Regions from separate parts of the Homo sapiens genome. Here region 1 is linked to region 2. The links come from fine-mapping of genetic effects on gene expression. A gene starts in region 2. The other region holds a variant in brackets. All regions are shown on one strand. Distances are from middle to middle. Region 1 overlaps UNC5B (unc-5 netrin receptor B). Region 2 holds the start of UNC5B (unc-5 netrin receptor B).

The links. PIP is the estimated chance that this variant, and not a neighbour inherited with it, causes the effect.
Region 1: its variant is fine-mapped to the expression of UNC5B in whole blood (INTERVAL, PIP above 0.99). The same link has a PIP of 0.9 or more in monocytes after LPS.

Annotation. Positions count from the first base shown.
Region 1 is chr10:71,226,580-71,241,935 of GRCh38, reverse strand. All of the region lies in intron 1 of UNC5B (unc-5 netrin receptor B), which reads right to left. LOC112268061 (a long non-coding RNA gene) reads right to left here. Exons shown (of 2, transcript XR_002957083.2): 1 at 1-15,356. Among named protein-coding and RNA genes, the nearest start is that of UNC5B-AS1, 16 kb to the right of the region's middle. RefSeq lists enhancers at 4,368-5,114, 5,115-5,862, 5,871-6,622, 8,131-8,884, 8,930-9,440. The variant A/G (reference allele first, on the strand shown) is at 7,919.
Region 2 is chr10:71,204,730-71,220,085 of GRCh38, reverse strand. It overlaps UNC5B (unc-5 netrin receptor B), which reads right to left and starts at 7,516. Exons shown (of 17, transcript NM_170744.5): 1 at 7,022-7,516. The coding sequence starts at 7,100. It overlaps UNC5B-AS1 (UNC5B antisense RNA 1), which reads left to right and starts at 1,858. Exons shown (of 2, transcript NR_038453.1): 1 at 1,858-2,092; 2 at 2,451-2,862. LOC112268061 (a long non-coding RNA gene) reads right to left here and starts at 478. Exons shown (of 2, transcript XR_002957083.2): 1 at 1-478. RefSeq lists enhancers at 3,870-4,489, 7,460-7,754 and silencers at 7,356-7,615, 10,756-10,815.

The DNA.
Region 1 (15,356 bases), 22 kb before region 2:
CCCACATTCCCTCCAGGCTGTAATCACATAGGAGGTGATACACAAGATAACTAACAGGCTGCTATTATCTCTATTGTTAGAAGTTTATTATTACTGTTAGCCTGGCCTTCACCCACTCTAATGGCCCAGGTGCACCATGATGATCCTGCGTCCTTGGGCGGCACTTAGAAGCACTGGGCCTCCACTTGGGCAATGGTAATGGGAGGCTCTTTCCAGTTCCGACAGCCTGTGATTTAAAGATAGAGATCTCCTGGGGAGATGCCAGGCCAAGGAGAAGACGGGCCTTCTGTCGTGGTGCCAGTTACTACTGTTATTGTTCAAGTACAGCTCAGCCTCCCAGGGACAGAGCTAGATGTGCCCGATAAGCACATTTCCCCTCTCTCTGCAGCCTCCCCCTGCTCAGATAATACATGTGTTCACCAGGGCCTCTGGCTCACTCCTGGAGCAGACTAGAGCCCTGGAGACAGCACTAACCCAGGACACGAGCTAGTTCTCTGACTGGAGAGGGCTACGCGGCAGTGGGGATATGGGGCATTTGAGGAGGTCTTCATGTGTCTTTACAAGCCAGGTGCCTGTAGGATGTTTCTGCGGGGCTCTTGCTGAAGCTACTCAGTTACAGACTCTCTGGGGGGGCCTTCGGCACTGGCAACCCACCAAGCTTCTCAGGCCTGCTTAGGCAACCTCTCCTCTAGCTAAAGTGAATCACAGCTAACTGAGTCTCAAGACAGGAGCCCTGGGAGGTCTGGAGCTAGGACATGAAACCCAGCTGGTTGCTTGACTTCTCTAAGCCTCAGTTTTCTCCTCTGTAAAATGGGGGCCTAGTTCTTGCCTAAGGAGGCTTTGAAGATGAATAGGGTCAATACAAGTAGAGTGATCTGACCAGTTCCTGGCATACATGTAGGCTACCATGATGATGGACTCTCAGACACATCAAGTCCAAAAACAACAACAACAACAAAATTATAGAATCTTGGATTCGCAGGCTGCTAATTACAAGAAGCTCAGCAGGCCATCCTGAACTTGCCCTTCAGGCAGGGATTCCTATTAAAGTCTTCTTCTTGGCCCTTGGGGACTGGTACCAAGGGGCCTGCCCCATCTTCTTCTAAGGGCCGTCAAAGGAACCTTTTGGTTTCTCAGCCACAGGCATTCTCAAGCTAGACAGATGGACAGCCAGAAATATCAGCTACGCCTCTGCTGTTCCTGCCCCCATCCTCCCCTCAGGTCTTTTAGAAATGAGACCGAGTAGTGGAGCGACAGTGGGGGAGGAGGAGCAGGCGGCGGGCAGCTGCTGGGCCGGGAGGAAATCATTGCTGGTAGCCTCTGCTCAGCCGTGACCCTAACAGGAAGCGATCGTGAGGGCCCCTTGGGAGGCTGGAGTCTGAAGACAGGGCGAGGGATGGGGTTTGGACCTTCCAGGCCTCATCACCCGTGTCCACCCTGCTGGCCCTGTGCCCACGGCCTGTGCCTATCAGAGGCAGGCCACGGGCATCACCACTATGGCTAGTCCACCCTGAGAGCCTGCCTTCCTTCCTGGGGTTACTGGGGTCCCCCCTACTGGGAGAAGGGGTATCACGCTCAAGAGGTTACATGAGAAGAGGAATTGAAGTATCCTTGGTGGTGAGTGGCTGGCCTGGGCCAGTGGGCAGAAGCCAGAGGATGCAGATTTGGGCCGGACACCAACAGCTGCCCAAGTCATCCAAAAAAATGCAGCAGGCCGCATGGCAGAAGAGTGAGCATGCCCATGGGGGGAGGGGGCACAGGTTGGCACACGAGAAGCGCGGCTCATAATCTCCGGGACTCCCTCCTGCAGCAGGGCTTCTGAGGTGGAGAATGGAGAGACCGTGAGGGTGGGTGGGGTAGGTGGGGAGGGAAGGAAGGCTCAGCAGGAACAGCAGCTAACATGCCACCTTCCCTCACCCGCCTGGAGCCCCAGCCCAGCCTTTCCTGCCTCCAGGCACCCCACACTGGGCACCTGTTTATTTCTCCATGAGCCCAAGGCCAGTCCCCTCACAGAATGGGCAGCCTCCCGAGGGCAGGCCCAGGGGTTTAGTATATATACAGGGTCTGCCAAATCCAGATGTGTGTGTGCTCACATGCAGATCACAGGAGGGAACCCTGTGAAGATGACCGGAGGAATCTGGGCTTCAGGGTCACCCAGGGGCCCTCTGGCACCAGCCACCATATGCTCTGCTTATAATCTCTGGGGCTCCCACCCATCCAGCAGGGGTGTGTGCCCACTGCCCGCCCCCGTGGATGCCCTGCTCTTGCACTGCTGAACAGAGGACTGGGGGTGGAGTGGGCTCTCCAGACTGGGCCACTGCAGCTAAGCACCAGAAGCTAACCTCAGCGCTGGGCAGGGCCTGGCATGGACCTTTTGACTAACATGCACAGCCTCCCATGAGGCTGGAACTATTAGTGATGGGGAAACAGGGCCCAAGAGGTTAAGTGATCAGCCAGTGACATGCATGAGGAGCCCCTAACTGCTCAGTCAGGACGGGCGACCCTCATCCCACCCACCCGAACTCGATGGCCACCCTCAGGCCCATTCCCTCCCTGTGCCTGGGGCCTCCTGCCACCTCAGGCACCCCCTCTTCATAACGAGGTTCTCCTGGGGGTGGGGCGTCACCTCTGTTAATGTTCCTTTATAGAAAATGTTTCCCCTTCCCAAGGCCGCTGCTAAAACCTGCCCCACTACCCCCAATGCCATCCCAACGCAAGTAAGCCCTGGACACTAAGGTATCTACTAGCTGAGAGGTTTTCTGGCACATTGAGGGAGATGATAAGTCAGTCTTCCCTGGGTCACTGGCACTGTGGGGGCAGAGGTTGGCTTAGGGTGGCTGGGAGACACGCCACTCAAATCTGAACCCACCCTCTCTTCCACCATCCCAGGACAGCTCAAGGGCAGGGAAATGAACAGGGTGTTACCAGGCCTCCATTTCTAAGTCTGAGCAGGCAGAAGCCTTAACTCCCTCGTCTAAAGCCTCTAGGGATTAGCCAGGCATGATGGTGCACACCTGTAGTCCTAGCTACTAGGGAGGCTGGGGCGGGAGATCATTTGAGCCCAGGAGGTCGAGGCTGCAGTGAGCTATGATTGCGCCATTGCACTCAAGCCTGGATAACAGAACAAGACCCTGTCTTTAAAATAGTAATAATAATTAAGCTTCTGAGGATATGTATAAGAGAGTGAAAATGCTGCCCAGGTGTGTAATCCCAGCACTTTGGGAGGCCTGAGGCAGACAGATCACCTGAGGTCAGGAGTTCAAGACCAGCCTGGCCAAGATGGTGAAACCCCATCTCTACTAAAAATACAAAAAGTAGCCGGGCCTGGTGGCTCATGCCTGTAATCCCAACTACTTGGGAAGCTGAACCCAGGAGGTGGAGGTGGCAATGAGCTGAGATCACGACTCTGAGCTCCAGCCTGGGTGACAGAGTGAGACTAAAAAAAAATAAATGCAAATGTAAGCATGGAGTCGAGGCCTCAGACGTCCAGCAGGGCCTATCGCTAATCAGAAACCACAAGACATTCTGAGTGACAGGATTGAGAACAGGAGTGAGTGTGAGCAACAAAACTTGGGGTCACTGGAAACTTTGGGAAGAAAAGAGCCACTCTGGAGAAGTGGGCCCTGGGCAGGGTGGGCGTTGTGGGGATTTTGCCTGACTTTCAGGACCCTTTGCACCCTCCAGAACAGTTTACCCCTGAGGTCTTCGAGCAACCCCTTCCTGTGGCTCCAAATGGTAGGGAGACTGGTGTTTCCAACAGGAAACGGGCTTTCCACCCAGGGCAGGGGGGCTCCCAGCACCTCTAGTTTTTAATGATCACACTCCTATTTATTTAGCTTCTGAACAGCTCCAGATTTCTGCCTGAGGGAGTTACAGGCTGTTGGGCTATTTGTGGCGAAGTTAATGAGGCGACTCAGTGGAAGCTGCCTTGTCTCCCGTCCCCTTCTGTGGGAAGACACAGGAAGCCCCTTGATCCCCAATTACCTGCCTGACAGGAGCCTCTCCCCACCTTCCTCATCTTCCCCAGCTCCAGGTACCACACCTCTTCCCCCAGGCTCACCTGGCTCATCACCAATGAGGGAAATGGACTGGCTGAGGTTTTACCATTTCCACTTGCCTTAAGGTGAGCATCAAATATTTCTTGAGACAGAATAAAGGACTTACAAAGTCCTAGTAAAGACCACTTCTGCTCCCAGTAAAACTACCTCCTTCCCGATCCTATAGAGGCCACAGGCTGGAGATGGAGGCAGGAGGCTTCCAATACGGACTTCACCGCACCTCCTTCACACTAGGTGCTGCAGGAACACCTTGCATAATAATAGTTAATGCACTCAGGATTGCCAGCTTTGTGCTGAGGACTTCCCGTGTATTTACTTATTGACGTCTCACTGCTCTTACCCCCACTTTACAGATGAGAGAACTGAGGTCTTAAGAGGTGACCCCAAGGGCACATGGTCAGTAAGAGGCAGAGCCGAGTTTCAGACCCAGGCTAACCAACTCCAAAAATGCCCAAGCACTGAGTGAGACGGCTCTCTCTCTAAAATCTCATTTAAACCTCATGGAGACGTTATGGGGTAGATTGCTATTAATTCCACTTTGTGGTTGAAGACGAGGCTCACATGGGCTAAACTGTCCAGGAACACGTGGTTTGGAAGCAGGGAGGGTAGTATTTGAACCCATGCTGTTGCCAGAGCTTTTCCACATAAACACGAGTCTTGGTGACCAGGCAAACAGGGGTCATTAGGGAACGTGCACTTGGTCCCCAGAGTGGGCCTCTGCTCACAGGCTCTGTGGCCTTTGCTATTCCACACCCAGCCTGGGATCCTAGCTACCCTCCGCCCAGGCAGGCCTGTTTGCCCACCACCTGTGCTTCCTGCCTCTTCTCCAAACCTCTGAATACCCTGGAGCCCCCATCTACACCTCCACCTCCTCCAGGAAGCCTTCCACATCCCAGCCGTGGAGCTCACTCCTCTGAGCTGGAGAAAATGTGGGCGTTCTCTTCAGGGGCATGCATCTTCTCTCATTCCTAAGTGGAATTTTGTGAGCTCCTTGGGGGTAGGTTCTGGGTCCCCTTGGAGCGAGGCACAGAGAAGGGAATGATAAATATGGGGGTTCACTGCTCTCAGGACCAGGGTCCCTCTGGCCTCTTGAGGGCTTCACTGGACCTCCCCATCCATTCTCCCAGAGGAGAAGCAGAGCAGACTTCCTTTGCACAGAGAGGAAACCAAGGCACAGCTAATGGCAAGAGCCAGGGAGTCTCCAGTGGGGGCTCGGGCAGGGAAGCCCAGCACCCATGAATGAGGAGGCCACTGCCGGTCAGTGTGGGGCGGGAGGGCCCTGGGTCCCAGCTCTGAGGAGCTCTGAGAAACGCTTTACGACTTTCTAAATGGGCCTCTGCTGACAGCTTAACAGCCAGCTCCTCCCTGCCCCGGCTTCATATTTACGAGCTGGCTCTGAAGGGGGGCTCAGGAATCCGGCCCACACCACCCGATCCTCAGCCCTCTGGCTCCAGGGCCAGGAAGCCATAAAAAATGATCTTGCATTGCTTCCCTTCCCCCACATGTTTTAGGTGAGGCAGGGCGGGCATGGCAAGGGATGCTGGGGGCAGGGAAGGTGTAGGGTCTTTCTCTAAGGCTACACAAGCACATTCTCACAGAGGGGAACTCAACTGCCCAGGCTTTGCCCAGTCCTGAGGTCCCTAGTCTGAGCTGTCAAGGGCTGGACATACTCATACTTATGGGGCACCTACTGTAAGCCAAGGTGTCACCTTCAATATCTCATTGAATCTTACAACAACCCTGAGGAGTTTGACAAAGTTTGGAAAGGTCTTTGGACTCAGATCTCCACTGTTCCCTCCTGCCCCGACCAGAAGGCCCCTTCAGTTTACAGTTGACGAGTGAGACCCAGAGATGGAAAGGAACTTGCCTAACGTCACACAGCGTATTAGTGGCAGAGTGTGGACCTGAACTAGGGCTCCCAGCTCCCAGGGCAGTAGGACCCATGCTGCAGGCTCCTGACATGCCAGTGGGCGAGGTGGGGATGATCCCTTTGCCTTCCACATGGGTCCCTCTGTCTATAGATGGCCCAGATGCGACCAGGTGCTCTCTAGGGCTCTCAGCGGCTTGGGCACTCTAAGGCTGGAATTCCACAATGGTGCCTGGTCTGAAGCCCAGTTGGTGGGGAGCTGCCCTTCCTTTTCAGGTTGAGGCCAAGAGGCCACACCAGCCCTGGCCATTCTCTAAGCTCAGTCCTCAGGGCTGGAGGCTGGGCTCCGGGAACCCCCTAGGACCCCCCTACCAGTCCCTAAGTGTCCTCCCACCGTCTGGCCTGGGAAGGGCCAATGTCTCCCACAGGATGTGGCCGTCTGGCTGGCTGAAGCCTCTACCACATCCCCTCTGGGTGCTCTCCAGGCCCAAGGCTGAGGAACGCTGACCACGGAAGGAACCCCACCCTCTGTCCCCATCCCAGCCCACGCTGGCACAACCTCCAGTCCACATACCCTCTTCTTCCCGCTGAAGTGGGTCAGTCCCACCCAGGGAAACCAGTCCTCAGCTCTCTGCTGAGTTCAGGGCTCTGGCTACAGTGGGGGCTCAGCAAATGACCATCAAGCCCCCAGAGGGGTTCAGAAGGGCTGGTGGCTGCAGGCCTGTTAGTCCCACCCCTCCTGTCTTTCTCTGTGGTCTGGGCCCCTTCCCTGGTGGCTCCCCTAGCGAGGGGCTGTCTGCAGATAATCAGGGAACAGATTTGGAAAGAAGGAGGAAAAAAAGCACTCCGGCGCCAGACAGGATCCTTATCTTCTGGGGCGGGATGTCTGTCAGAGGCAGAGGCAGAGGCAGAGGCAGAGTCAGAGGCAGCGGCAGCGAGTCCTGCAATAGGGGCCCGGCATTGCAGCCAGGCCGGGGGAGGAGGGGCCCCCCTGGGCGCTGGGGGTGGGAAGGGCTGGCCTCTCCTTCTGGGCCAGGAGACCAGTGGGAATCTATCTGGCCTGCTGGGGAGGGGATCTGGATGCCAAATCCTGTCCCCTCAACCCAGCTTTTAGGATGAGTCTCCCTGATGTGTTCAGAATGACCCTGGGACCTCTGCAAATAGAGCAGAGGAAGAGAGGCCCAGGTTTCCAAGTCTCCCAAGTTCCTAACAAGGCAGCAGGGCCCCCAGACCCAGCAGCCTGGAACTGGCTGGGGAACTGTCTTAGCCACAAGACTCTGGCCAAGTATTCTAGCTGCATCTAGGTGCTCTCACCTGTAGAATGGGGATGAAACCCCACACGCCTCTTGCACTGAGCTATTAGGCTTCTCCCCAGGGATTCCATCTAGAAAGTGCCTTGCAAAGGGAAGGTGTGTTCTGCCTGGGGCTTTGAGCTTCCCACCCCAGGGGCTCCCTGCTGGTTCTCACACAGCTTGACAGACCAAAGGAAGGTCATACAAGGGGCTTTGCTTCTTATGCTGGTCCCCAGAATACTTTTCAGTGAAACCCCACAACATGGTGAAGGTCCTTTTCATAGAGCAGAGAGCAGGTTTTCCGATGGGGTACTGTTTCCCCAGGGCAGTCCATAAACCTTGGGACCAAGAAGCTTCGATTCCCTGGCTTGGACTTCTCTGGGCCAGGCCTGAATCTCAAGAATGAAGCCTCATCTCCGTGAGGGCCCCAGCAAAAGCCCCTGGAGGGGGCGGTGTCAAGTGCGGGCCAAGGGCACAGGCCCTAATCAGGCTCCAAATCCAGGCTCTTTTGCTGCTTCCTGGCTGTGTGACCCTGGGCAAGTGTCCTTATCTCCGCCCCCCACCCCCGAGGTTAATTTCCTCATCTATAAAATGAGGAAGATATCTCTTCAGTGCTAACATTTTGTAACTTCACACTTGACCTAACCGGCTCTGCCCCTGAGAAACTTGAACCGTAAAAAGAAGGGAGCCATATAACACAT[A/G]TAACTGTACTTGCACACTCATCAGGCAGAGAAGCATCAAATCAAGTGTGCCTGTGTGGCCTGGAGCACCCTGGGACCAGGTTCCTTTGTGGACCCTGTTTCTAATCTCCTGGCGGCCTCAGCCAAGAGCAGTTAGAGTGGGCTGGCCTCCTGCAGGAGTTGGACCAGTTCATCTCCCAGGGATGGGCTGCAGGAGGAAATGCCAGCAAGGGTCCTGACAAAGAAGGAAAGGCTTCTGTCTGGTGCTGGGGATTAAAGGCACACTCCCCTGTGCCCCACCTCCAGTTCCCTGTGCCCCACCCCAGCCCCACCAGAACCTGGCTGGCCTGTCTCCCAGCTGCCATCTGTAGGGGTTGGTCCTCATTAACTGCTGTGGCAGCTGAGGGGCTGGGAGAGGGAGATGCAGGCTGCAGAGCTAGAAACTAAAGCCAGGCTGGGACGGTGGCCACCTCTGGAGCTAGAGTGATGGACCGTGGAGTGGGGAGGCAGAGGGAAGGGGGAGACAAGGGAGTATAGGGACGGGTGACAGGCTTGGCCAGTGGGAGAGGCAAAGGTGAGAGCTGGCTGAAGCCGCCAGCATCTTCCGGGCTGTTATTCTGGGCAACATTTTATTTATTCAGAGGCTAGGGATGCGGCTCAGCATTGGTTGGCTCAATATTTATTACAAGTGCATTGACCTTGTACTGTGGACCCCGTGATGGGGCCACCTCAGGACCCCGGGATGGGGCCACCTCAGGATCCTCATCTCCTCGGTGCTAGGACACACTTGAAAACCTGCAACGAAAAGCCGAGGGGTCCTACCTTCCTGGAAGACCACCCAGTCCAACTCTTGCTTTACCTTTGGGAAAATTGAGGTCTGAGGCAGAAACAACCTTGCTCAAGGTCACAGGGCACACTGGTCCTTGATCCCTGTTCTCTTGGCATTTAGGCCATCAGAATGGACAAGTGCTGTGGAAGTAGAAATACTGCAGACCACATTCAGAGGGACAGCGACCTGCCCACAAGTCCCCCATCAGGTGCAGACACAGCTGGCAGAAATCCTGGAGTAAGGTCGCAGCTTTGTGTACAAGGCACTCAAGCTCCCTGAGCTTTGGTTTCTTCCTCTCCACGAGCAAGGTAATCATGCCCATCTCACAGAGTGGTTGGGAGGACTGCATGAGAACACCCTGGAAACTGTCAAGCCCCATCCTACTGGAATTGGTTTATTCACTGACATGCTGCATGGCAGGCTGTGCTGGGAAGTGAGGCAGCATGGCCATGGGGGACTGGCATCCATCCATGGCCCCTAAACCCCTTCCTTATCACAGCTACCAAGGCTAGGCAGGCGGCAACTAATAAATCGGCAGTAAGAGCTCCTTCTTAACCAACTGAAGACATGTAAATGACCCAAAGCAAGGCCAGGGCTGCCAACTGGCGGAGCTCACGGTGACATCACATGCCCATTTGCTCCAAGCCTTCCAGCAGCTGAGGTCAGCTTGCAAAGTGGGAGCCCCTCCCCCTCCAGCCCCGTGCTGAGCCAAGAGGAGCATGGCACTGCCAGGGCTGGGGCTGGGGCCGGGGCTGGGCCACCAGCTCAGGTTCCACGAGTTCCTCCCTCCTTGTGCACTCCCTCTGCAATCGGCTCTCCTCCACCCTCCCTGACTGCATTTCCCTCATGAACACAAGATTGCTACTTCTCATATAACACATACGCGGTGGTGTGAACTTCTGGTAAATGAAGATCTTATTTAAAACTGTGTGCTATCAGAGGAGGAGATGAGATAGGTTTTGACACAGCTCAGCTGGCTTGCCAGGAAAAGGAGGTGCTGGGGGGCTGTGCACAGAGCCACAGGCCATTCCTGGGAGTTCCTGGGCAGTCATCGGAGATGGGCCACAAGGCTTCTGGCAATGCTTTCAACTCATCTATGAGGGTCAAAAAGGGTATCCCTTTCTTCATCTTTGCAGGAGGGTTCAACAAGGAGGTTTCCCCATTTGAGAATTCAGTTTGCTGTGTGGAACAAGTGGCTTAACCTTGCAGGGCTTTCCAAGAATGCAGAATTTTGGATCAGAGAGGCCTTGGAGATCCTCAGGTTCCAGGGTCCTCTACCTCAGCTACACAAGAGGACCACCTGGGGGACTTTTAAAGATCCTGACGGCCAGGCCAGAACCCAAGACCAATTAAGTCAGGATCTCTGGGTGGGACCTAGGTGCCAGGTGATCCCATTGTCCAGCTAAGGTTGAGAATGACCAAGCTAGTCTCTTTTTAACATAAGTGTGCCACAGAATCACCTGGGGTGTTTTGTCAAAATTCATATGCCCAAACCTGGCCCACAGTCCCTAAACCAGAACCTTTAGGGTAAAGGCCAGGCATGTGCATTAAAAAAAAAAAACTCTTAAGATTTTTACGTACGATTGTGGTTTTTCGTTTGCTAAGCACCTGTTCACAAGGGCCCACCGTGTGCTGGGCACCGTTCTGAGCATTTAGGGTACATTGCTGAGCGTACACAGCCCTGCGCTCCCAGGCTGGGGAGTCAACACATAAGTCTGTATTCAAACAACCATTCCAGATGGCAAGAAGTGCTGGAAGAAGAGTAAAAGAGGCAGGGGGCCAGGAAAGGACTCTCTGGGGAGGGGCCATTGGAGCCGAGACCTGGATGACAAGGAGCCAGCCACGCCAAGCTCAGTGCGAGAGCACTCCCTCCAGAGGCACGTTTGCTGATGTGTGAAATGACGACTCTAGCAATGGCCGAGCCCATACTCTCGCCAACCCCCACCTCACCCCTACTGTATTTTTAGGGTGCCCAGCAGGAAATGCTTGGAAGAGGCCAGTGGGTGTCACAATGGCACCTTCTGCCCCTCAGGAAATTCTATAGGCTGCTGGGCTAAGGGGACTTTACGATGCACAGCTTATATAGCTTTCATATAAGGAATCCTATGGTTCACTAGTCCAACCCCCTCATTTAACAGACAGGGAAACTGAGGCTCAGAGAGAGGAAGTGATTTGCCTTGCTGTAGCATCTCTGCTCTGACAGGGTTAAATGGGACAATGACTTCACCATGGAGGTGGCTTGCTGCTGTCAAGCCCATTGTCTTTACCCCCAGCCACACCCCAAATCCCTGTTCCTGGCTGCTCTCCATATAAACAACCTGTGTGTTCCAGCCATGGTACAAGTCTGTGACACATCCAGGGAGCTTGAGTGGTGGGAAGGTGGGGAACCCCCACTTCCCTGCTTCCCTGCCCCATAATCTTTCTGTGGGCGGGAGGTCCTTCCTCCCACACAAGGAAACCCATGAAAGGCCAGACAGAATGGTGCCAGATAAGGCCATGGAATTTGGAATTTGGTGGGATCTAGAATTTCCCTTATGGGGAAGGCTGGTCCCAGCTGTCCACCCATGGTGAGTATCCAAAGGGAGGCTGTGCCAGGCTCCAGGGATGTGGGGGGAGGCCCACATACCCAGGGCCGGAGGCCTGATGAGGTGGGGAGGGCAGAGAGAAGGTGGCTGGTTGTCTTTGGAATGTCCCTCCCCAGAGAGGCAGGCTAGGTCCACAGGTCACTTGGTGGACAGGACATTGAAAGCAATTTTGACCTTGGCCACTGGCCTGCTCTGCTCAGTCTGATGTCCACGTTTGTGGTATAGCCAGGAGGGCTAGAGGCTAGGGACTGCCTGTCTTCAACCTGCTTGGCCTTGGCTTCTCTGTGTGTTCAGGGGTCAGCAGCTTCCCTCGCTGAGCCATGGAGTGGAGGTAAGTTCCTGGCTCCCAAACAGGCCTGCACCCCTCCTCACTCTGACCAATCAGAGTGAGGGCCCTCAGGTTCCTCCTAATCACAGCTGAGTTCCCCTAGGGAAAACATGGAGGTAAGACAGGGTGTCCTTGAAGGACTATCTAGAATGGTCTACAATGCTTCTTTTCTTAATCTTTCTCAGCTACCAAACCAAGGCAAGAGCAGAGAGGAGGAGGTAGGGGTGAAAAGTCAGATGATAACAGTGTAGGTCAGGAGGTAGCTCTGTCTCAGTTTGCCCAGCCATAAAAGGGCAGTGAAAACACTCCCCCTGATGACTTCGTGGGGCTCTTGAGAAGCTCAGAGTCAATAAGAGGGTGTTTCTGCATGCCGCGCTCTGTGCCTGGGAGCAACAGGCATCACCCTGACCAGCGACGGTGGGACAGCCAGAGATGGCATGGGGCTGATTCTCACCACCAGCTCTTACTCAAGCCAAGGGACACGGGGCCCTCATGCACCCCTTTATAGGGTCTGCAAGACTGCGGTTCCTAAGAAGCTCTGAGAACTACACGCCCTGCCCCAGAAGCACAACAACTCCCTAGAAGGAGCCTTGGAAAGGAAGTCCAGGGAAGTGAGAGGGAGATGCCCCAAGGTCCCAGGGAATTTCTGTTTAGCCTGCCCTTCCAGCAGAGATCAGGGCCTCCGGGAGCTCGGGCAAGCGCTCTGGTCCAGTGGGCCGTGATGGGAAGGAGGGTGGATGGCTTGATCCACGCTTCCAGCGACCCCTTTCCCTTGAGAGGTCAGACCCTCAGCAGGCCCTGCCCCGCCCTCTGCAGGCTCCTCAGGATCCAGGGGCAGGGGCGGAGGAGGACACTGTCAAGGGTGTAATAAACAACTTACTGACTGGAAAGCAGAATTCTCAGGCTTGGAGCAGGACCTTCCGGCAATCATGCCCCCACCATCCTCCCAGGGTCTCCTCTGCTCTCTATAGGAGCTGAGGTCTGGCTCAGCCTCTTTTCCAGCAGACCAGCTGATCTGCCCCTGGGGCTTGTTGCTCCCCATGCACCCACAAACACCCACTCTCTCTGACCAATCCTTAAAATGGGAAAGGGGCTGACTGAGGCTGGCTGACTGGCCTGTGGGAAAGTGCCAGTTCCGTCCATCAATCAACAGCTCTTTAGCGAGACAACAATCACGTTGGTGGAGGAGTCTGCATTTTATAAAGCAGCTCCAAGTTCGATTCCCTCACCGCCCAGTCACTCCACAGGCAACTCCAGAGCATCCAGCACTCCCTGGGCATTGAGGGAGGTGCGCAGGGGATAAGGCCCAGTCCCTGCCTTGGGGAGTGGGTGTAGGGTGGGCTCATGGAAGGAGCACCGAATCTGGAGTCCAAAGGCTAGGGCTGAACCCAGATGAGGCCCTGACACTAAAAGCTAGATTAGGGTGGGTCACTTCACTTTCCTGAGCCCCAGTTTGCTCTTCTGCTAAGACCTTCCTCCCAGAGCCATCGCAAGGACTGAGTGAGACAATGCATACACAATGGCCAAGGTGGGCACAGAGGAGGCCCCGTGGGTGCCCCTCGGGTGCTCAAGCCCCCTCCACAACTGAATGTGAGGCCACAGTGTTTCATGTTTTCCCGTCTGGTAAATGAGAAATGGTATCTTGTAGTTGTTTTACAATATGTGTTTATCTAATTCTGAGTAAGTCTGTTCGAGGGTCATTGTTCTATTTTATTTTGTGCATTGTCTGTCCGTGTCTTTTTCTTCCACCTTTCTGTGAGGGCTTGATCCTTTGTTCCTTGATATTTAAAAGCACTTTATATACCATAAATATCAGCCCTTCGTCTGTGGCATATGTTAGGAATATTTCTCTCAGTTTGTCAAGTACTTTGTCTTCTGACTTTGTTTAAGGTGTTCTGTGATTTTTTTTTTTGTCGAAAATTTAAAAATGTTCATGTAATAAAACTGATCAGTTTTTTTATTTTATTGCCTCTAGATCTTAAGTCATAGTTAGAAAGCCTTTCCCACCCACAAGTTTAAAAAGGAATTTACCCATGTTTTCATTTAGTAGTTGTATCATTGTTTACATCTAGATCCCAAATCCACTTGGAGTTCATCTCTCTGTATGGTGTGAGACTTGAATCAAATTTCACCTTTTCCCACATAGCTACCCAGTAGTCCGAGCACCATTTATTAAAAAGTCTGTCTTAACCCCAGTGACCTGTGATACCACCTTTGTTATGTACTGTATTTCCGTAGACATTTGGGTCTAATTCTGAACTTACTATTATCTTTGGTCTATTTGCCAATTCACACACCAGTAAGCACACTGTTTTAATTACAGAGGCTTTCCAGTATGTTTTACTATCTGGCAGGAATAGTTTTACTTCTTCTTTACCCCTTTCTAATGCTTCTAATTGACTTCTCTCATTTAATCACATTTGCTAATACCTCTAGCGGTGAATACTAGCAGAGGTGAATACCAGCAGGGTATCTATTACTGATCTTACTGAAAGTACCTTTAGTGTTTCCCCATTAAATAAGATACCAGCTTTAGGACTAGGGTATGTATGTGTGTGTGTGTGTGTGTGTGTGTGTGTGTGTGTGTGTATATGTGTGTATATATATGTGTATATATATGTATATATGTGTATATATATGTATATATATGTATATGTGTATATATATGTATATATGTATATATATGTATATATGTATGTATACAAAATTTATTTTTATTTTTATTTTGTTTCAATAGTTTTTGGGAACAGGTGGTATTTGGTTACATGGATAATAAGTTATTTAGTGGTGATTTCTGAGATTTTGATGAACCCATCACATAAGCAATGCACACTGTACCCAATGTGTAGTCTTTTATCCCTCACCCCCTCCCACATTTCCCCCATCTCCCTAAAGTCCATTATATCATTCTTATGCTTTTGCATCCTCATAGCTTAGCTCCCACTTACAAGTGAGAACATATGATTTTTAGTTTTCCATTCCTGAGTTACTTCACTTAGAATAATGGTCTCTGGCTGGGTGCGATGGCTCACACCTGTAATCCCAGCACTTTGAGAGGCTGAGGCGGGCAGATCACCTGAGGTCAGGAGTTCGAGACCAGCCTGGCCAACATGGTGAAACCCCGTCTCTACTAAAAATACAAAAATTAGCTGGGCATGGTGGCACACACCTCTAATTCCAGCTACTCGGGAGGCTGAGGCAGGAGAATTGCTTGAACCCAGGAGGCGGAGGTTGTAGTGAGCCAATTTTGTGCCATTGAACTCCAGCCTGGGCAACAGAGCAAGACTCCGTTTCAAGGAAAAAAAAAAAAAAAGAAGAATGGTCTCCAACTCCATCCAGGTTGCTGTGAATGCCATTATTTCATTCCTTTTTATGACTGAGTAGTATTCCATGGTATATATATCTATCTATCTCATCTGAAAAGTATCCCTTAATTCCTATTTCTTTTAGTGTAGTATTTTATCCAAGCTTTGTTCAGCATCTATGAAGATAATAATATGATTTTGTTTCCTCAGATTCATTAATATGGAACATGATATTAATATGGCATGTTATTAATATTAGCGAATTCATTTGGAACCACTCTTGCATTCCTGCAATAAATCAGATCTGGTCATGATGTTAAAAAGAGAGAATGGAATTGGATGCTGCTGATCAGAGCTACCATCACTAAATACTTTCTCCATCCTCTCCAAGTATTATCTGATTCCATCCTTA
Region 2 (15,356 bases):
GAATGGGGCCAGAGGGTTTGTTCTCCAAGGATTGGTGTCCACCTCAAGATAGTGAACACAGCAGATGCTAACAGGGGCAAATTTCCCAAGAGTAAGGAGAGGTCGGCTGGCACCCCTGCCCACATACCCAGCTAGCTAGCCCCCATCCCATCCTCTCTTCAGGACATGCTCTCAGAAGAACTGGAAAAGGACAGTCAAGGTCTGGCACTCATCACCTGCCCCAGGAAGCCCCATGCCTTAAAACCTTGGCTCTGCTATGCTCTTCCCTGCATATCATCTGTCACCCTCACATGGCATCTGCAATGCTCTGAATGCCACTTAACATTTCTAGAGTGGACATCAGCAACACTTACAGACAGCACCTCCTCGAGGGCTGTGGCCAGGGCTGCTTAGGAGTTCTGACCTTGTGATGGTTAATACTGAGTGTCAACTTGATTGGATGGAAGGATGCAAAGTATTGATCCTGGGTGTGTCTGTGAGGGTGTTGCCAAAGGAGATTAACATTTGAGTCAGTGGGCTGGGAAAGGCAGGCCCACCCTTAATCTGGGTGGGCACAATCTAATCAGCTGCCAGCAGGGCTAGAATATAAGCAGACAGAAAAACGTGAAAAGAGAGACTGGCCTAGCCTCCCAGCCTACATCTTTCTCCCGTGCTGGATGCTTTCTGCCCTCGAACATCAGACTAGAAGTTCTTCGGTTTTGGAACTCGGACTGGCTCTCCTTGCTCCTCAGCCAGCAGAAGGCCTATTGTGGGACCTTGTGATCGTGTGAGTTAATACTTACTAAACTCTCCTTTATATATATATTAGTTCTTTCCCTCTAGAGAACCCTGACTAATACAAACCTGGGTCCCAGTCCTGTCTCTTCAGCCTTCTAAGTGAGAGCTTCCACCTTCTCGGTGAGTTCTTACAAGGACAAAGTGAGACTGCACATATAAAAGGGTTTTGTAAACTGTAAAGCAACATGCACACCAGGGTGGGGCGAGGGACTGTGATTTTCCTATAGGCCTCCCTGCTCCAGAACAGTCCATCTTATCCTAGAGTTGAAGTGATGGAAGTCCTTCCTGTGGACAGCCCTGGGAAAGCAGGTAAGCGCTTCTGTGACCAAGAAAGTTGTAACGACAGTGGAGTCCAGCATGTGTGTGGGTGTGTCTGTCCTCTTTAAATTGCTACCGCTGAGAGTCCCAGGCCCCAGCCACGTCAGCCTGAGATGGGGTTCTCCACTGGGGATCCCACCCACTCAAGCTCTGCTGGCCCCTTCTCCAGCAAACTCTAGAGGAGAACTCACTCCCTTTGGGGGAGACAGGCTGAAGCATAAGCTGACCCAGGTCAGAGAGCAGATCTCCAAACCACAGCCGCTCCCATGCTCTGGGGAAGCTGGGAGTTGACTGCAGAAGACTCCAGGTCTGGGACTCTGATCTTCCTGGGGGCAGTAGCCCAAGCTGCTGGGCTGGCTTAGGGTCCATCTCTGCCAACCTTCCTCCCCCTGGAGCACCAGGACCCACCTGCAGGCAGGCCTATCCCATCTGCACTCAGCAGGGGAAGCTGTCCTCTGCCCTTCCAACAGCAGAACCTGGCACTCAGGCCAAACCCTGCTCACAGTGCAGGTGTGGGGCAAAATGAGGTCTCTTAAGTGCTGATGGGCAAATGGCCTGGGTCCCATCCTGAAGTGGAATCCCCAACGGAATACAATGGATGGAGCTTCCCATGCCTGGTGGTGACTCACTGTCTCCACATTACACATACCTATTTATACACAAACACACCACAAGTGTGCCCATGTGACATTGCCCACCCCACACACACCCAAACACAGACACAGCCTATACATCACACCTCCTGAGTTACAAAAGGCACAACCCTCCTCAAACACACATCCATCCTCCGGCACACACCCAGTCCATGCCTCGCCCCCACACACACCTGACACCCCAGTGCAACACCACACCCACCCTCCCCTCCCTGCAAACTCCCACCTCCGCCCACCTGCTTAATACACATTCTCACCCCCCACACACTCCTTAATACATACTCTCACACCCACAAGCCTGCCTTCTTGGAGAAGTGAGCCGAGCCGTGCAGCGCCGCGAAGGGGTAAGTTGCAAGCACTGGGGGCAGCCTGTTCTGGGAGGTGAGAAGGAGGGCGGCTCCGTGCACTCACTCGCTAGGCGGTGGCGTTAGAGCTCCCGGGGCTCCGCAGACCGATTTAGCTCGGCTGGGGAGGGAGGTGGAGATGGGGACTGGGGGTGGGGGACGCAGGAGAGGGTAGAATCCAGCCCCACAAGCGGCGGCGATGCTAATCAGGCCGCTAAGATGGAAAAGGTAAATTCTGGCGCCCAGCAGCCCAGCGCTTTTGGAGAGAAGGAAGAGGAAACAAAAGGGGTGGGGGTGGGGGAGCGGGGAGGCGGCTGATTTATGCCTGCACTTCAGCAAATATTTTCGCTGCCATTAGCATCCCCGAAGACCGGGAGGAACGCCGCGGGGACCTGTGGCTTAGCGCGCTCCGCCCGGGCTTGTCTGCCCGCGGGGGCGCAGCGGCTGAGGCGGCTCCGGGCCGGAGTTCCAATCAAGCGCCACCCAACTCCCAGTCGGGGGCCGAGGCCAGCGCCGGGATGCCAGCTTCCCCCAAAAAGATCCTGCCTCAGGGAAATGCATGGAGCCGGCGGAAAAGCCCGCGGCGCCCCCGGCGGATCGCAGACCCTAAGGGGGCGGGAGGTGGCGCCCCAGTCCCAACCTCTTGAGCCAACCCAGTGGGTGGGAAGTGCCCTTACCCTAGGCCTTCCGCAAAGTGTTCTCTCCTTGTATTATTCTAATTACGGTATTTTTAATTTCCTTAAAAAAATAAGAAACAGAAAAGCACAGAACGCACTTGTTTGGTTTCATTTTGCCTTCACAGCTTTAATGACTCTATTTGTGGAAGCTGTTTAGGAAACTGGTGAGGAGGAGAAGGAGGAGGACGCCAAGAGAAGCGCCAGCTCTGGCCTGAGCGCCGGCTTTCTCCTCCCTACCCTCTGGGGGCCATCTGCCCAGGCAGCAGTTTCCCTGGGCCCAGGCTCCCACCCCCAAGTCCCAGCCTATGACCCAGCCCCCTCTGCCCTTTCCTGAAGGCGGCAGTGGCCTCCAAACTGTCTCCTTTCCACCCAACCCCAACTCTGAGGGTCAAAAGACGGGCTGCCTGCAGGCCCTGGGGGAGGGAGGTACCAGCACTGTCTATTCAGAATCACTAACCTGGTCCGAGAGCACTTGGAATGGAAATGATCCATCTCCCCCCAGCCCATCCCCAAAGTCTTAGGCAGCCCACAAACCTCCTTAGAAAACCTCTGTGGCTCAGGGAATGGGGCGTAGGAGGCAGACCTCGTCTTAAGCCTGACACCCAGGAAAAGGGTCACTAGACCTGCGGTCCAGGAGAAACTCAACAACAAAGGTGGGGGAGGGCACTGGCTCCTAAAGCTTTGAATATAAGTAAAAAGTAAAAACATATTCTGTCCCCAACTCTACAAATGGGTGCAGAGCTATAAAATGCTAATGTTTATTTGGCCATGCAGCCCAAGGGAGCTTGGCTTGTGACCTGTCTCCCTTCCCCAGGTCAGGGCAGTTGCTCAGGAGGCCAATGCTGGGGGTTGGGGGAGCCACCTTTGGGCACTTGCCTGGTCTCAGAGCTTCACTCCTGACCTTTGGCTCTGCCCTGTTCCCCCTCTCCTGGAACACCTCTTCACCCTTCCAACTCTCAACCTCTTTCCTCCATCCTGCCATGAGTTCCAGTCTAAAGCAGCCATCAAAGCGATCTTATCTTTAGCTGCCTGCCTTAAGTGGTGCCTCAATTTCAGAGTCTCAAGCCCACACCCATGATGGTGGGTCTCCAGCCCAGATGGAATGAAGGAGCTAGAAGCACTAGATTGAGGTTGTGAGGCCTCAGTTCAAGTCCTGGCGCTACCGGTGAGTCCCAGTGTGACCTTGGGCAAGTTGGCCTGTCCCAAAGTGTCAACAGTTAAATAAATGGATTGGAAAAGAGGGGAACTGTTTTATCCTACAGAATTCCCTGTTTGTGGGGGAGGGGAGAGAGGTGGAGGAGAGAGATTACAGGAGAAATTCCTCCCCTGCAGTGGTACTTTCACTTTAATGAGAAAACCCATTAAGACACTTGATTTTCCATTTGTTTAAGTGAGATGGGTGTTTGCTACAGTGAGTGCAGAGGGAGACAAGGACAGGCTATCATTGTGTGTGCACAGGCGCATGCACGCGAGCACACACACACACACACACACACACACACACACACACCAAGCAGAGACACTACAAAAACTCTGATTTTAATTGCACCTTAAAAAGAAGTATTATCTTGACACCTCGACTCCTTCTCAACCATCCCAGCCAGAGGCCATGGAAAGGCTCATTAAAAGCTCCAGGAAGGGCTGAAAGGTGGGGTGGGAGGAGATTTCCAGGGCCAACCAGAGCTTTTGAAGTGGCCTTTTCTGGCTAGTCACTTGCTGACATTACCTTCTAAGGGTCTGGGGTTTTATGGTTCCAGTTTTGATTTCTCCAGCATCAGACTTTACAGCTTAAAAATATTCTCAGTGCTGTAAAGGGAGCTCATTCCCATATTCACCAGGGATGGGGTGGGGTGGGGAAAAGGAGAGAGAGGTGCCTGCCACTTGAGGGGAGCTTGGACACCCCCAGTAAAGATCCCTCTTTGCAGAGAGAGCCTCGCCTGCCTCAGTCTGTTATGAGTCTCATGGCAGAGGGGTGGGTGGATAAGAATAGGAGGGAGGGTCTGCTGGGCTTGAATCAGTCTGGCTATTGGACAGGAGCCCTTCACATGTCTTCAATCTGTGGCCAAGTGAAGGCAAGATTTGGAGAAAGCCAACACTCTGGCCTTGATTTTCCCCATCAGTGAAATGGAGCTTGTGAAGGATCCAATGGAAAAACCCAAAGAACATTCTGAAAGAATGATGCTCTGTGCCTGTGGCATTAGAGAAAAACAAGATTGTGTGGGAGGAAGGGACATGTTCTCCCTCCTGAAGGCAGGTTTCTAAGGGCCACACATTCTGGGCAATGAGAAGGCTGCAGGCCGACCCCACCAGTTGGCCCCTCTCCAGGCTGGTGGGCAGGCAGCTACTGCCGCACTAAGTAATGAGCACAATTCCAACACCGCTTCTGCTCGCTGGTGAGAAATCAAAGCCGGGTATTAGAGGCCATTTCTGACTGGGCACCATTCGTGCCCAAATCCATCAAAGCCCTGGGCCTGGGGTTTCTTCTGGGGAAGGTGGGGGCTGGATGCTTTGTTAAGCAGGAAATGCAGGCCACCCCCAGCCTTCTTGGCCAAGCCCACCCACCCAGAGAACTATAGGCCAACCAGTCTTGTCTTTCTCCTACAGCAGCCCCTCATTCCTGGTAACCTAAGTATTTATTCCTGATCCCACTGTCCTGCTGGTACAAAAGCAGCTTCCCAAGACACAACCCTGCCCATGTGCCATTTACAGAGACTTCACCCTACCCTTCAATCATCTCCTCAAACCCCCTCCAACCAGAAACCAGCACCCCAACCAAGCACCTCCCACGTCTAACTGCACCCTTTAAAACAAGGTTGGACATTCAGCAGCCTGCCTTCCCCATCCCCATCATTACCTTCCAACTTCAAAACACTGCTTTAAATACCAGAGTCTGCCCAAATCATAATTAACTTGGATCAAATGGTTGAGTGTTGTAACTCTACTGCACAGGACTTGCACCAGAAAAAAAAAAAAAAGTGGGGAATGTGCTAAAGCCAAGCCCTCACTCCTGGCCGTGGGAATCACTAATTCCAGAATGAGGAATCTTTGGCTATGGAGGGGGGAAGGGCGGATGTCAACTTCGCAGCAGGAGGTAGGAGGTGGGGAGGGCTGCGTCATCTCGTCCACTTTCTGCTCCAGTTTTCCTGCTCCATTCTCAGCCTCAACTCAGAGAGGACTCCGTGCAGGAGGCCCCGTCCCCACCTGGCTCCGGAGCCGAGCCGCCCGGCAGCCGTGGCCAGCCCACTTGCTTGGGTTCGGGTACCAGAGAGAGGCTGGCTCCATTCAGTCCACAGCCTCCCCGAGAAGACGCAGCCCAGCCAGCGACGCCGGGTCCAGCTACAGGACGAGCGAGAAACGTATTCATCCACGGCGAGAGAGGAGGGTTAGGGACTTTATTTCGGAGCCCACCAGTTCGCTGAAGTCATCTTGGTGGGTCCAGAGCGGGCGCTGTACCAAGGAGAGCGCACCTAGTCTGTTCCCCGGACAGCGAGAATGTCAGTGACCAATTTAAAAGGAAACTCCGCAGGATCGCTAAGAACCCCTACCCGCATCCAACACACACACACACACACACACACACACACACACTCTCCAACACTCAGAAAATTAATAATAATAATAATAATAATAATAATAATAATTCTTCCAGACCTGCGGGCCCAGCGATCTCGGGGAAAGCTATGTGTGCAAGACTTAGCCCTCCCCGCTTCAGGAGCCCTGCAAGCCGGCCTGCCGAGGCTACCGAAGCGCTTCCTGTGTTCAGCAGGTCTTTTCGCTCTCTCCCTCTAGTCTGCAGATTGCTGTCCCTATAGCGCGTAAGAGCCTAGGCGAGCCGGGACCAGACTAGTAAGTTACCGGCGTACGGCAGCGAGCGCACACCTTGCTTATGTAGCCAATGTTCTTTTTCGGGGCGGATGCCAGGCGCGCGGAGAGCCGGGCGTCCCCAGGAGGCGGATCCTCCCGGAGACTCAGACCCTGACTCCTACACCCCTTCCAGGGAGAAGAAGGGATCCCTTTCAGGAGCGAGCAGGGACCTTTCAGCTTACTGTGAAGCCCCTTCCCTGCTCCCCGCTCCCGCGATGTGGATGCGCCATTGCCCACTTTGGGAGGCAGTAAAATCTACATTCTAACTTGGGCGCCCTTGCCGCTTTTCCTGCGCGCATCGATGCGACGAAAGACCACCTCAACTTCAGGACAGAGTGAGGCGCAAGGGTCCCCTAGCCCCGCGCCCCCAGACCCGATCGCTTCCTACCTGCTTGGCTCAGCCTCGGGTCCCAGCAGAGCAGCAGTGCCAGCAGCAGCGCGCCCCGAGCTCCGCTCCGGGCCCCCATGCTCCCGCGGCCTGGTTCGGGCGCCTCTCCCCCAGGGCTGTCTCCCTGGCCCCAGTCTCGCCGCCGCCGTCTCCGCCGCCGCCGCCTCCTCCTCGCCGTCCTCCCCGGCGCCCGGCAGCGCCAGCCCGTGCCTTCCGTGGGGGCAGCGGAAGCCACGCTGCGCGGAGGGCCGCCTGGCACTCGGAGCGCGGTGGGTGCCTGGCGCCGGCTCTCGAACGAGGCTCCGGCGCGCCCCTCTGGCTCCGGGTCTCTGAGCGCTCGCCTGGCTCCGGCGCTGTGCCTCCGAAGTTGCGCGACCGCTCAGTGGCGCTCGCAGCGGCGGCGCCGCGCAGTCCCAGCCCCAGTGCGCGCCTCTCGGAGCCCCGCGGCTGCGTGCGGCTCCGGCGCCCTAGCCGGCCCCAGCCGCCTGCCACAATGCCGAGCGCCGCCGCTCGCTCGCCGGAGTGAGTTCGCCAACCGAGGGGACCGCGCGCGGCCGGGGCGGGGCCTGGGCGACCGAGGGCGGAGCCGACAGGGGGACCTTGAGGGGGGATCCGACGGCCATCTGGGCGCGGCCGCGGCAGAGCTGGGGGACCCGGGGGGAGGGTCCTCGCGAGACGCTGGGCGCAGCGTTTTGAAAAACCCGGCCGCTGGAGAATGGCTGGACGTGGAGGCGGCCCAATTTTCGCTCCCCCAAATTAAGGAAATCTGGCTTTGCGCCTTCATTTGGCTTGGCCATGTCAGCTTTCTCCTCTGATTAAACATAGGACTCTCACTTTTGGCTCCCCTGTCTGTAGTATGCGCTCTGCCTTCCACATGTGGGGGTCTTTCCAAAAAAAAGGCTCCCAAAATGAGAACACCCAAGTCCTGGTTACGCGGGGGCTTACAGCGATATGAAGCTGGGTATAGATTAGGATCATCCTGGCTGGCTCTGCTTGTCTGTATGATCTCCGGCAGAACTGTTAACCAGACCCCTGGAAACCCCTCCAGCACTCTGATCCTGCGTTGTTGTAAACTAGCCTCCTACCTGACAGTGGGACAGCCATTTTTGGCTCAGTGTAAACTTGGACTCTGCCCCTTATTTACTGTGTGACCTTGAACAAGTTACTTAACAATTCTATTGCTCCCTTCATCATCATCTGTAAAATGGAGGAAAAGGATAACTATTTCATAAGGGGGTATAGAATTAAATTTTAAAACTTGTGTGGAAATTGCAGTGCAAGTGTCAATAATCTCTTTCCAAGATTCTCCCCTCCCAGCCAGTCTGATTCCAGGGGGAAAGTCCTGACCACCCAAAGGTGGTCCAAGGAGCACGTGGGGACAGGTGAGGTTTGAAGGATGGGCAGTGTCTTGGGATTGAAACCCAGAGAGATCAGAACGAGCGGATCAGCTAACATAGGCAAAGACCTTCCCTGTGCCAGGCACAGGGCTAAGCACTCTGTATGCATCATGTCAGTTAATTCTCACAACCCTCTGAAGTAAGCACCATTTACATCCCATTTTACAGATGAAGGACCTGAGGCACAGAGGTGTAAAGCCACCTGCCGGAGATCACACTGCTTGGAGTGACTGAGTGACTGAGCAAAGGGGATGGGGGAGATGGGATTGGAAAGAAACCCTCTAAACGGGGGAGCCTCACTTGAACACCTTCCCTGGGGCTGGATTGGGCTGTGCGAAGGGGACTGTCCTAGCTGTTTCCCCAGAGGTGAGGTGAAGGCAGGACTAGTACCCTCTCCACACACACTCCCCTCACAAGCCGGGGTCTTGGAGTATCTAGGGGAGGTCGTGCATGCCATCAGCACATCTCCCTAACCCTCTCTGACTGGGCACCCAGCATCAGGAGGGTGGCAACAGGTGGACTGGGACTCCCTGGGGGAAGAACTTCCATCAATTGAGAAAGGCTGCTGTGGGCAAAGGTAGGTTGCTTAGCTTGGCCTCTGACAGCCCTAGCAAGGGCAGTGGATGAGACAGTCAACAGCTCAGCACACCCAAACCAACTCCACCTTGCAAATACACATGCACACACACAACTACCCACCCATACACACCTGCAAAGGTACACACACGAAAACATACAACAAAGACAACAGGTGCAATGTTTCACCTCCCATAAACATCACACCTACAAATAGGCACCCGACTCCAGAGACACCCACATACCAAAGATGTATGCCTAAAAAAAGCAAACACACAGGCGCACACAACTAAAAACACAAATAGGCAGATGACTCCCAAGACAAATAGATATTTGGATACTTAACTACTGCCAGGAAACACATACAGGCACGCCTGTGCCAAGACCCACATCTGACGGTCATCCCCTGGATGCAGGCACATGGTCAAGGTTGTGCCTGTGCTGGAGAGCTCAGCAGGGACCTCAGCAGAGACGGGCAGCATGCAGAGACCACAGCATGTTCTCTCTCTCTCCCCAACCTCTTTCTCTCTCTCCTTCAGGCCAGTGGGGTATTGGAGATTTTTCTAAAAAGTTCCACCCCTTGGAACTTTGCTGTTTAGGTGGTAAAGTGTACCCAGCAGGCCCTTCTAGTCCAAGTATCAGGTTTCACGGCTTTAATTCCTGGGTGGAGAGAAGGGGGACTGGAGATGGGGGCAAGCAAAAGGAAGACATTACCCCCTCTCCTGCCAGTCCCTGCCCCACTTCCCTTCTCAGCCTAACCACTCTCTCAACTCTTGAAATATACTCTTGGGAGGTCCCGGGCCCTGCTCTCCCTCCAGGACTCCAGCATCAGGGCATGGGATTTTGCATGTTGGGAATCTCTCTGTAACTGCTCTGTGCCCCTGCTCCTGTACCAAGTCTCTGAGCCTTCTCTAGCCACCTGCAGCTGAGCAGTTGCAGATGTGGTTCCTCTCCAGCCCTGGCATCTCAAGAGTGCAGGCTGTCAGTTGAGGCCAGGCAAGGGGCTTCAGAGGGAGTCAGACTCCCCCTGAGCCATACCTTTCCCCGGGATGGGTGAAGAATGGGCAGGGTCCCTGCCTGGGGGATGACACATTAGGATAGCAGGATTAAGATTTGCCAGGGTGTTCCCAAACCGAGTGCCATGGGCCTCACAGCAAAGGCATCCTGCTGGGAGTTAAGCATGAGGACGAAGCAGTGAGTTGCTTGAAGTCAGGTGCCCTGTGTTCCCTGTTCCCCATGATATATCTAGCACTGAAGACAGTTTCTGGCATAGCAGGGATGCAATCAACCTTGGTTGAGTGGGTACATCAATAAGGCTGGGGGGAAAGGGGTTGATGGTCAAAGGGCCTAAGAGTTGCTATGTGAGCCCCACCCTCCCCTCCCCTCTATTTCCTGGGGTCTGGGGGTTCTGAGGCTGAAAGTAGGGCAGGCTTTGTGGCATAGATCTGCTTTGAAATCAGTCCCAGAGCCAGTTCTCACCCTTGGTGGGGACTGCAGATGCTTCCAGCGGCTACCATCACTTGTCTCAAACCACAGGAGTGTGTAGGAAAGAGTTCTGGATCTGGAGGGCTGTGGCCCTAAACCTGGGGGCTGCTCTTACCTGCTGGCGGATCTTAAGCCAGTTACTGAAACTTTCCCAGCGTCAGTTTCCTCAACTGTAAAACAGGAATAATAATTACTTCACAGTATTAAGAAGAATAATAAGGCCAATAATCTGGCTGTATAAAAACCGCCTATTTGATAACAATTACGATTTAAAAGCAGCTGTAGGGGCTCCCGGCAGGAGTGGCTGCCGGCTTGGGGTTGACGCCTCCCGCTCCGTCGGGACCGTGTGCGCGAAGGTGCCACCAGGCGGCGCGCTGCCGCTTACGCCTCCCCGTGGCCGCCAGTCTCCCTCCTCCGGCGATGGGAGAATTGTCCTGGCCCCACCCCGCCTGGGGCCGCCCTGACAGAGTCCTTGTCCCGGGTTGTCAGGGGAAGTGGCACTCAGACGACTCCGTTTGCAGGATCTTGAGTGGGAAGGCTTGGGAATGAGTTCACGGTGCCTCCCCTGAGTCGTTCGGTCCAGAACGGACCCCAAAAACCTGGACCCTGGAGAAGGGAAGCGCCTAAAGCTGAAGTCCTTAACGCTTTACCATCTCTTTGTAATAATATTATCAGAGCTAAGGTTGAGTGCTTACTATATGCCAGGTACTATTCTAAATCTCTTCGGCCGGGCACAGTGGCTCCCGCCTGTAATGCCAGCACTTTGGGAGGCGGAGGCGGGCGGATCACTTGAGGTCAGGAGTTCAAGACCAGCCTGGCCAACATGGCGAAACCCCATCCCTACTAGCAATACAAAAATTAGCTAGACATGGTATCGTGCTCTGTTAATCCCAACTACTCGGGAGGCCGAGGCACGAGAATCGCTTGAACCCAGAAGGCAGAGGTTTTCTGTGAGCCGAGATCGTGCCACTGCACTCCAGCCTGGGCGACAGAGTGATACTCTGTCTCAAAAAAAAAAAAAAAAAAAAAAAAGTACCGCTTTAAACATTTTAAAGTGCACAATCCAGTGGTTTTTAGTATATTCCCAATGTTGTGCAGCCATCACCACTACCTAATTGGAGAACATTTTTATCACCTCCAAAAGAAACCCCATACCATTAACCCCATTCTCCCCTCCCCCAGCCCCTGGCACCCACTAATCTACTTTCTATCCTATTCTGGACATTTCATATAAATGGAATCATACTATATGTGGCCTGGGTCATTAAACTTGGACTCTTAACCTCTACTAAGTACTGTGACAACCTTCTTCCTTCCATCCTTCTTACCCAGTCTTTTCCACCAACCCCTCCAGGGTCTTCTCACTGCTGTTCAGGCAATGCAAGCCGTTGGTCACAAAAGCCTTGGGCTCAGGCAGATCCGGGTTCAAATCTCAATTCTGTCTTGGACATTATAACTTATTTATCGCCTCTGCTGTCACCTTCTCAAAATTCTTTTATTGTTGTAAATGTTTAAAAGGCCATCTTTTCATTTTAGAAGAGTTTTAGTTTTACAGAAAAATTGCAAATATAGTACAGAAAGTTCCCATATGCCCCTCACCCAGTCTCCTTAATTATTAACCTCTTACATTAGCATGGTACCTTTACTACAATTAATGAACCACTGATACATTATTATGTGCTAAAGTTCATTCAGATCTCCTTAGTTTTTACCTAATGTCCTTCTGTTTTCTGTTCCAGGATCCCATTCAGGATCCCACATTGCATACAGTCATTGTGACTCCTCAGGCTCCCCTTGGCTGTGACAGTTTCTCAGTCTTTCCTTGTTTTTGATGACCTTGACACTTTTGAGAATTATTCATTGGGTATTTTGTAGAATGTCCCTCAACTAGGATTTATCCATTTCATAATTCTTAATAATTTGGAAAAAAGGGCTCTGATTTCCACTTTATACTGGGCCCTGGAGATTATGTATCCAGTCCTGCTTATGCTTTATGGGGCAGAGAAAAGGCAGGCTGAGCCAGAGCTGGCACATGCAGCAGGCTGTAGCTAGCATGCCCTGGCATTGCCGGGGGTGGGGATTGGGGGGCTTATCTGAGTGGGGGATGCTGGAAGCTAGACCTAGGAGTGAGAAGGAAACCTTAAACATGGAGAACTCAGGAGGGAGTCCAGGCAGAGCAAACCACGTGAGCAAAGGCCTAGAGTTATGTATGTGATGGTATGGTCAGGAGGTGGCCACATCCTCATACTGCCCCTCAAACAGCACACCAGAAGGCCAAGAAGGGAAAAATCTCTACACAAGGGCAAGGCCTGCAGTGCTAGAGATGAGATTTGATTCTGTAAGAAACAGGAGTCATGGGTGCTGATTGAGCTGGAGAGAGGCCTCATTGGAGCTGTGCCATGGGAGCTTCCTTGCAGCTGGATGTCAGGGCAGACTGAGCAGGAGCCAACAAGGTGGCCACTGCATGCTCCTGGGACAATGGGGCCTTGGCCCAGGGATTCAGGTGGCAGAAAGTAGGGACTCTGCAGAGGGAGAAAGAGTTCCCCAGATTTGGTGCCTGAGGGAGGGTGGGTACTTAGGGATGGAGGAAGGGAGGGGAGCTGGGTCGAGTGGCAGAGGTTGCAAGGAGAGACATGGTGAAAGGAGGAGGATGGCTGGGCTGGGGAGAGGGTGGTGGATTTGGGTTTGGACTTGGTGAGTTAAAGGTCCCTGTGGACTTCCCAGCACATAGCAGTGAGCACAGGACTGACTGATGCTACAGGAGTGGTCAATATCTTAAGAAATAAGCATGCTAGCTAGTGTATGCTGGGTGTATTAGTCAGGGTTCTCCAGAGGGACGGAACCCATAGGATATATGTATGTATATAGGGAGAATAGGCTCACATGCTCACAAGACGAAGTCCCATGATAGGCCGTCTGCAAGCTGGGGAAGAGAGAAGCTGGTAGCAGCTCAGTCCGAGTCCGAAAGCCTCAAAACCAGGGAAGCAGATGATGCAGCCTTCAGTCTGTGGCCAAAGGTGTGAGAGCCCCCGGCAAGCCACTGGTGCAAGTCCCACAGTCCAAAGGTTGAAGAATCTGGAGTCTGATGTCCGAGGGCAGCAGGAGCCAAGGGAAGCATCCAGCACAGGGGAAAAAGAAGGGAGCTAGAAGACCCAGCAAGTAAGGTTATCCCACCTCCTTCCTCCTGCTTTGTTTTGGCCACACTGGCAGCTGATTGGATGGTGCTCACCCACATCGAGAGTGGGTCTTTCTTTTCCAGTCCACTGTCTCAGATGTTAATCTCCTCTGGCAACACCCTCACAGATACCCCCAGAAACAATGCTATATCAGTCTTCTAGGCATCCCTCAATCCAATCAAGTTGGCACCTAATATTAACCATCGCACAGGCAACTATAGCAAGCTAGAAACCCTGCCAAGAGCTCCGTCTGAGTTAGCTCCTTCATTCTCCATGATTACCCATGAGGAGATGTTATGATTTTCCCCATTAAAAAGTAGTTCTCATTGCTGGTATCTTTTAAGCAGGACTAGAAGCCATTAGTATGTACAGAAGTTCCCCACCCTTATCTGCGGTTTTCCTTTCCATGGTTTCAGTTATCCACAGTCGAATGAAGTCCAAAAATATTAAATGAAAAATTCCAAAAGCAAAACAATTCATAAGTCTTAAATTCTGTGACTTTCTGAGTGATGAAATCATCCCTTTGTCCATCCCTTTTAAAAATGGGAAAACAGACTTGGTTTCCCTGCTTAGCTAGAAACTGAGGCTAGAATCAAACCTAGGCTGTTGGCTTCTAAGCTTATATGTTAAACAAACACAAGACGCTGCCTCTTTAAATCCCCTGTGTGTAGTTCTTTTATCTTAATGACATGATTTCCCACTGATCATCTCAATTGTTCCTAGAGGCTGGTGTTAATCATGGCCTATGACAAAGGAAACCACAGCTCCAAAAGGGAAAATGACTTGTCTAAGGTCAGCTGGTAAGTACTGACCCTGAGCTTTTAGACGCACATTCTTATGACTAGTCCACGTTACCAACCTTTTCAAGGTTCTGCCTGGACTTACGGATGGGGAGTTATCTGTGTAGGGGGATGAGGAAGGGCAGAGGCTACATATAGTCTAACAGGGCTTAAAATAATGAGATAGTCCTATTAAACTTTCTCACTCTCAATTGTTTTAAACATTCCAATTTAAATGTATTCAGGTAAATATCAAGTTAATTTGTCTAATAAAAACATCAGGCCACTTCACATTTGTCCTAAAACTACAATGAAACACCTTTTGACATATAAAAATGTCTTTTGCCATTTCAAATATATTCAATTTCAGCATTGTGCATGTGATACTTCCAGTATTGTTCATGTGTCATGGACCCTTAATCAAATTAAACACAATATTTATACTATCCAGAGAGTACAAGATAAAGTAAATAATTCACTCAATGGGATTAATATGTAAATCAGCTTTATTTACAAAACACTAGCTCAAGAATTATAATACTGTGAAGCTTTCATTTAGGCAGAAGTGTAATCACTGAAGGTATAGCACTTCCTTAAACTAAAAATGAGAGATAATTAAAAATAAATTTGGAAGAGACAAAATTCCCACGTTTCTTGTTGTAGTTCTGGATTTTCAGTAGCAGGCTCTTTTGAAAGCTGAGTCAGCACTGAAGATAATTCACTATTATTTTCAGGATAAATGCCAAAGATATCTTCCAGTGGCAAGTATGCTGAAGGTGATTCACAGATGCTTTCTGAAAGACCAGGAGGAAGAGGAGGTCCCCGTGCTGTGGACTGTCCTCCTGGATACATTGGCTATAAAGATCTTTACTGAAGGAAGAGGCAGAGGAAAGAAACCCTATAGCAAAGTGGAGTATGCGTG